Homo sapiens: one gene and its partner. The gene in region 2 interacts genetically with the main gene of each other region. Each region holds a gene or a part of one and is shown on either strand. Other genes may lie near its edges. The genes, in order: ING3 and KDM5A.

Evidence for each region.
Region 1: changes in KDM5A (region 2) and ING3 together harm fitness more than expected from each alone (negative genetic interaction), as found in Homo sapiens cells (one large-scale study listed by BioGRID).

What each region holds. Positions count from the first base shown.
Region 1 is NC_000007.14:120,971,219-120,975,046, forward strand, and holds part of ING3 (inhibitor of growth protein 3), read left to right. Parts: exon of another isoform or gene 1-127; intron 128-1,986; coding exon 1,987-2,025; intron 2,026-3,509; coding exon 3,510-3,626; 3' UTR 3,627-3,828. UniProt on the Homo sapiens protein: Component of the NuA4 histone acetyltransferase (HAT) complex which is involved in transcriptional activation of select genes principally by acetylation of nucleosomal histones H4 and H2A.
Region 2 is NC_000012.12:302,202-306,029, forward strand, and holds part of KDM5A (lysine-specific demethylase 5A), read right to left. Parts: intron 1-3,828. UniProt on the Homo sapiens protein: Histone demethylase that specifically demethylates 'Lys-4' of histone H3, thereby playing a central role in histone code. Does not demethylate histone H3 'Lys-9', H3 'Lys-27', H3 'Lys-36', H3 'Lys-79' or H4 'Lys-20'.

The DNA of each region.
Region 1 (3,828 bases), on a different chromosome or scaffold from region 2:
GTCCAAGATCAAGGTGTCCACTGACTCAGTTCTGGAGGAGGGCTCCCTTCCTAGATGGAGACTGCTGCCTTCTCACCGGGTCCTCACATGATAGAGGGAGAAAGAGTGTGCTCTGGTGTCTTTTCTTATAAGGGCACCAGCCTTGTCAGAGTAGGACCCCACTCTATGACCTCATTTAACCTTTACCACCTCCTCACAGGCCCTGTTTCCAATTATAGTCACGTTGGGGGTTAGGGCTTCAACATATGATTTTGAGACATAAGCTTGCATTTCATAACACGTGTCTATGCAGATTTGCACATGCATGTGTGTATAAGTTTGTCAGTAGGAACCACAGTGTATACTTTCTTGTTACTGGCTTTTTTCTCTAAATCAGGTATACCGAACATGATTTTTCTTTAAGATCATATTTTTAATTTTCACATAGTTATCTCTTATGCCATCCAGTGTAGTTTTCTTAACCAATACCTAGCTATAGATTATATTAGTGGTTTTAATTTGTTTGAAATTAGGGATAATATTACGATAGGCATTTTTTAAATGTAATCCATTTTATACATCTAATTTCTTGGATAATCTTTTAGAAATAAAATTAGGCTGTAAATATTTGACAGACACCAAAATATATTTTCTAGAAATTTATTACCAAAAATTAATAAACATACCGGTTTACTAAACCCTGTCCAACACTGGATATTATTTTCTTTTAAAAACTAAGTACCAATTTGGTAGTTTTATATTATGATTGTTTTAAATACACTAGTATTATTGAAGTTGGACATTTTTTGACCATTTTTGTTTTTTACATTATGAATCGACTCCTAATGGTGTCGGCTGATTTTTCTATTGTTTTTGTTATGTACTCTAAATATTTGCTTGATTTAGTTTTTTAAAAATAATTCTAAAATTTTAATTTTATGTAGTTATGACTGTTAATTTTTTTTTATGAAGCAAGCCATGGATTATATACTTAGAAGGGCTTTCTCTTTGGCTCTTCTTTCTACAAAAAATTGTCTTGTATAATATTTTCTCCTAGTTTTTATATGGTTTTGTCTAGTTCTTTGCATGCTTCAGTTTCTTCACATTTAAGACTTAGTCTATCAGCAGATTATTGTGTCTAACAGTATGAGTTGCCAGTCTGATTTTTAAAAATTTTAACAATTTGTTAGCTGTTCCACTATCACCCGATAAACATTTTTCAGTACAAATGATAGAAAAGCATATCCTGTATCCTGACAACAAAAGTAGATTACTTGCAAAAGAACAAAATCAGACTGAACCTAGAGTTTTCCTCTGTAACACTAAAAAACTAGAAGGTGATGGAATATGTCTGTAGAGCTTTCAGGGAAAAATTAAGAGCCCCCAAAAACTTGATATTCAGAGAAGTTATTTCTCTGCATAGGACCATGTAAATATATTTTCACTCATGCAGAGAATCAGAAGATATGCCATCTAGTTAATCCTGTCTGAAAAATTATTCAATCCACTGAGAACTTCAGTGAACTCAAGAATTAGCAAGTTATGCCCTAAAGTGCTGGTGATGAAGAGCAAAAGAAAAATGAGAAAGGACATAAAATAGATAAGTTTAGAAGTTTCAAGGAAGGAGACTATTAATTGCAAAAATATAAATGACCTAATGTGACCCAAGAAGTAAAAACTTTCAGTAAGTAAATAATCAAGAAAGGAACTTAAAATTTTTACAATAAGAACTACCCAGAAAGATGACTCCTTCATCCGGGTGATTTATATGTCAAGTTCTTCCAGACTTCTGAAGGGCAGATAATTCCTGTGCATTTCTTCCCACCCTTGCCCCACCCTGCCCAAAAGAGTATTTCAGGAAAAAATTATTATACCTTGATTCTCAATGTAATTGTATATTCAGTGTATTTCCCTTTATTTTCCAGCAGTATCATACATAAACAGTTAATTGGTATCTAGGTGTTTGTTACATAGTCATAATAAAGACATTTAATTTTTTTTAACTAGGTATCTTATGGTGAGATGGTGGGATGTGATAACCAAGATGTAAGTATTACATTTTTCTATTTAGGAATGAAAAAAATCACAGGTTGTTATTACTTGAATATTTGTCTTATTTGCTGTATGGTTTGGTCTAAGAAAACAGGTTTGCAGGTATATTAGTTATATTATGCTAATGCTAGAATATTCCTCTTCAAAATAGGGTAGTGTCCCTTAATGTGTTCCCTATTTTAATTTTTAAAGCTAATTTTATGGTTTTATGTGCAGATTGTCTCAGAAGTGTTATGTTGTATGAAAATTATAAATACCCTCCTTTCCCTTTACTAAAAAATACTGTGTTTACTAGAATCCAGTTCATTTATCACATTGAAGAAATGGAATTTTAAAACAATTCATTCTTTCAGGCTGCACCGTGCTAAAGTGAAGGGTGGGATAATTGAGGATCTAATGTGAGATTATCTTCCTCTCATGAGTATAATATTTTTTCCTGTACTCTGCAGGTGTCAGCTGATAAGAGCCACCCCTGATCTAAAAAGTAAAGGAAATTTGAAAGGAAGGAATTCTTGGTTTTTAGGAGACTTAATTTTAGTTAGAGATACGTTTTTTATTCAATACTGAGAATATTGTTGTCTAGTAATTTTGACTCCCTCCTTATTTAGTAGTGACAGGATCCTAAGATTAACAAGAGTTTTAAATTTGTAAAACAATCTGAAGATTGAGGGAGCTGGCTAGGTGCATTAAAATGTGTACTTTTCCTAGACCTGATAGGGTTACAGCAACATGCTCACGTAGATTGGGACAGAGCCTCCTTCTGTTTCCCTGTCTAGAATCCCTTGTAGGCTGTTTGTGGTTGTTGCAAAAACAATATTGCCCAACCATTTCAAGAACATCACTGTAAACTCTTCTGGGGCAGTTAGTGAAAATGATGAATGAGATTTCTATGAGTACCAGCATCATGCTTCTCTGATTCTTCTTATTCCCAGTTGTGCTCTTCTGAGTGCTAAGACTTTCATGAAAGAGTTTTCTGCTTAATATGTTTCAAAGAGGAATAATTTTTCTCTACATTTCAAGGAATAGAAACACCCACGTAGGAAATGCAGGGCATAAGACATAAATTAATGTCTTTAATTACAATCAGCTTATTCTACTTTATGAGACAGCAAATAAGGCTGACTATTAAATAAAATCTTAAGTTATATTTACCTTCTACATAGAAGATTCATCCCACTTCTTTTTGCCCTTGAAAGCTGAAAACTAGTGAATTTTCATTCATTAGGATGAGGGGACTAGATTACATGGACCTCAGGATTCTTGAAGATGCATAATTTTTCTGTGCCTTCATTTCCTCATTCCTGAAGCTTATCATTTAGTCTAAATGATGTCTAAATAATCTAGATCTAAAAATTCTGATGTCACACATCTAATTATTGTTAAATTAAATGGATTATTCAGTCTCCTGAGCATATTTTAATATACTCTCTTGTCTTCAGAAGTACTGAAAACTTGTTTTTTGCAATTTTGCTTTCTAGTGCCCTATAGAATGGTTCCATTATGGCTGCGTTGGATTGACAGAGGCACCAAAAGGCAAATGGTACTGTCCACAGTGCACTGCTGCAATGAAGAGAAGAGGCAGCAGACACAAATAAAGGTGGTCCTTTTGTTTGATGAAGAAATAAACTTCAGCTGAAGATTTTATATAGGACTTTAAAAAGAAGAGAAGAGAAAGAAGAAACAATGCATTTCCAGGCAACCACTTAAAGGATTTACATAGACAATCCTATAAGATCTTGAACTTGAATTTTATGGGTTGTATTTTAATAATGTAAGTAAATTATTTATGCACTCCTG
Region 2 (3,828 bases):
CCCGCATTGCCAAGGCAATCCTAAAGAAATAGAACAAGGCTGGAGGCATCACACTACCTGACTTCAAACTATACTACAAGGCTACAGTAACAAAAACAGCATGGTACTGGTACCAAAACAGATATACAGACCAATAGAACAGAACAGAGGCCTCAGAAATAACACCATACATCTACAACCATCTGATCTTTGACAAACCTGACAAAAAGAAATGGGGAAAGGACTCCCTATTTAATAAATGGTGTTGGGAAAACTGGCTTAGCCATATGCAGAAAGCTGAAACTGGATCCCTTCCTTACACCTCACACAAAAATTAACTCAAGATGGATTAAAGACTTAAAGGTAAGACCTAAAACCACAAAAACCCTAGAAGAAAACCTAGGCAACACCATTCAGGACATGGGCATGGGCAAAGACTTCATGACTACAACAACAAAAGCAATGGCAAAAAAGGCAAAATAGACAAATGGGATCTAATTAAACTAAAGAGCTTCTGCACAGCAAAAGAAACTATCAGCAGAGTGAACAGGCAACCTACGGAATGGGAGAAAATTTTTGCCATCTATCCATCTGACAAAGGGCTAATATCCAGAATCTACAAAGAACTTAAACAAATTTACAAGAAAAAAACCACCCCATCAAAAAGTAGGCGAAGAATATGAACAGACACTTCTCAAAAGAAGACATTTATGCAGCCAACAAACATATGAAAAAATGCTCATCATCACTGTCGCTAGAGAATTGCAAATCAAAACCACAATGAGATACCATCTCACACCAGCTAAAATGGCAATCATTAAAAAGTCAGGAAACAACAGATGCTACAGAGGATGTGGAGAAACACGAATGCTTTTACACTGTTGGTGGGAGTGTCAATTAGTTCAACCATTGTGGAAGACTCTGGCAATTCCTCAAGAATCTAGAACTAGAATTACCATTTGACCCAGCAATCCCATTACTGGGTATATACCCAAAGGATTATAAATCATTCTACTATAGACACATGCACACATATGTTTACTGCAGTGCTGTTCACAACAGCAAAGACTTGGAACCAGCCCAAATGCCCACCAATGATAGAATAGATGAAGAAAATGCAGCACATATATACCATGGAATACTACGTAGCCATAAAAAAAGATGAGTTCGTGTCCTTTGCAGAGACATGGATGAAGCTGGAAACCATCATTCTCAGCAAACTAACACAAGAACAGGAAACCAAACACTGCATGTTCTCACTCATAAGTGGGAGTTGAACAACGAGAACATATGGACACAGGGAGGGGAACATCACACAGCAGGGCCTGTCCAGGGGTGCAGGCCTAGGGGAGGCATAGCATTAGGAGAAATACCTAATGTGGTTGATGGGTGCAGCAAACCACCATGGCACGTGTATACCTATGTAGCAAACCTGTACGTTCTGCACATGTACCCCAGAACTTAAAGTATAATACAAAAAAAATTATGGTTAAGTAATCTACCTTCTATAGTCTACAACCTATAATAACTCCTATACCAACAAGTTAAGGAGGGGAAGATAAATTTAGATGTGACAGCCTAAGGACACAAACCATTTAATCCTCTCTACAGGTTTTCAAACCTAGAATCTTACCAATTGCTCTTAATACAAGTATATGTCTGACTGACAATATATAGATTACAGTAAGTCTTCATGTAATGTCATTGGTAGGTTCTTAGAAACTGCCTTTAAGCAAAAGGAAGTATAGTAGCAGGTCTTTGAATAAAGTTGTTTTCATTTCATTATAACAGTGATGAGGGGGAAAAATAAGTTCAGCTTGCAGATCAGCTTGGTACTGCCCATTAATCTCATTGTTACACTTAAAGTCCTTGCAATGTTAAGTGAGCTCTGATTAGGTCTATGATTCTCCTTGAAATTAGTTTCCACAAGCTCACCTACATAGACACAATCCCAAAAGATGCAGGACAGACTTTGCTTCATTAAATATGTACCTCGTAAGTAATGATTTTCTGGATGGTAACTAAGATAAAATGACTGATTTTATTTTACTAAATAATTACCTACCCCTCCTCCTAAACCAAGAGGGGGCTCTTCCTCAAGCAAGAATACTAAGTTCAAAGTATTTTAAGTTATGAATTTATGGTCACAACAGAGGACATCACACAAAGGAAAAAACCACCAGGTCAAATGCAAATAAACCGGCAAATAAAATTTTCATTATACAATTATCGCTTGCTCTGTGGGAAAATGCTCAAGAGTATAGGCTTTTTTTTTTTTTTTTTTTTCATTCAAAGATATCAACATCAAAGTAAATTGGCAGGGGTATATAGCTCAGTGGTAGAGCATCTGACTGCAAAGTAAATTTGAACTTGAATTACCATAAGTCTTGCCACCATTCTTCTCAGCTGTCAAATACATTGCTAACACTAGAAAATCCATAATCTTATTTTTCTACCCTGCCAATACCCACTACCAAAGAGACAGTAAGCTAAGATTCTCATATAAATTCCTCCACAAAAAGACTACTCCATCCAACCATATGAAACTGCAGTTGTGATCCCTAGTCCTGAAAATCATCAATACTTGTGATGTTTTCATAGGTTACCAGTCTGCTTTCAAGCAAAGCCCATCATGTTAAGCAATTCTAGAAGAGTGGCTGATAGCTAATGTGCTAGAAAGCAACCACCAAAAATATCAAAGGCCTCTAACTAGGGTAAACGGGTGATTCCAGTATTCAAGGAAAAAGCTAATTATACTTGGCATGGGTTGCATTTCTTTTCAGCTGCTCTTAGTCACCCTATATACAACTTCGTAAACAAAGATAGTCATTAACTTCTGGATAACAACGTGCTTAAGAATGTACCGCTGTGTGTGGTATAAGCTAGTGTACCTTTCAGCAGACTGCCAATGAATTCTTCATAATGGGATTTAGCAGTACACTAAGATGATATTCAAGAACTGTACGCAACTGTAATGCCTCTTTTCTTAATAATGGCCCTCAATCAGCCCTTGAAAATCAGTGCAACAAAACTTGGCCATCTGTTCACAAAACTTTCAAAACTGAAAAATAATAATCTACCATATAATAAGATATTTTAATATAAAAAAAGATTATTTGAACAGTCTAATTCAAGTTTCAACTGTTTTCAAGTCTTTAAGTCACATAACTGAAAATTCCCATTTCTATCTTGAGAAAAAATATTTCCCAGCAGAGGAATCTACGAGCGTCTATGATGGATGGTTTTAATTTTATATCCTAGGAGTTTTAATGCTGATGAGATTAATGAGCAGTACCATGCTGATCTGCAAGCTGAAAAGACAAATAAAAGATAGTGAAGGGGTAGGAACAGAATCTCCCCTTGTTCTCTGGAAGCAGCCTTTTGTATCAGAGTAGGAATTCCCAGGTTACAAGAATAGATTCTAAACAAAGCAACTAAGAATCATATAAAACAAGTCAATGGATTGACTGTAATCTGGCAGGGTCTCTGCCTAATCACATTGTTATTACTAGGTTAAAAAGCAAAGGGCTTGCACCTGACAAAAAGGGCTAACGAAAAGCCAACTGGATCCAACACAAAACAAACTTGTCAAAACCTTCTCTTCACCACCAGTAACGTGTCATTACCAAAATAATCACATTGATGGTAAATAATTTGTTGTATCTGCAACTGGAACTCAGCAAATTCTAACCTGGGCCCAAGTATTATATTACCCATCTCCGAATGTGACATTCTATCTAGCACCATCCAGACGAGAAAGCAGAGCAAAAGACTCTAGCAATGGAAGTGTTTTTTTTTTTTTTTTTTTTTTGAGACAAGGTCTTGTGCTGCCCAGGCTGGAGGGCAGTG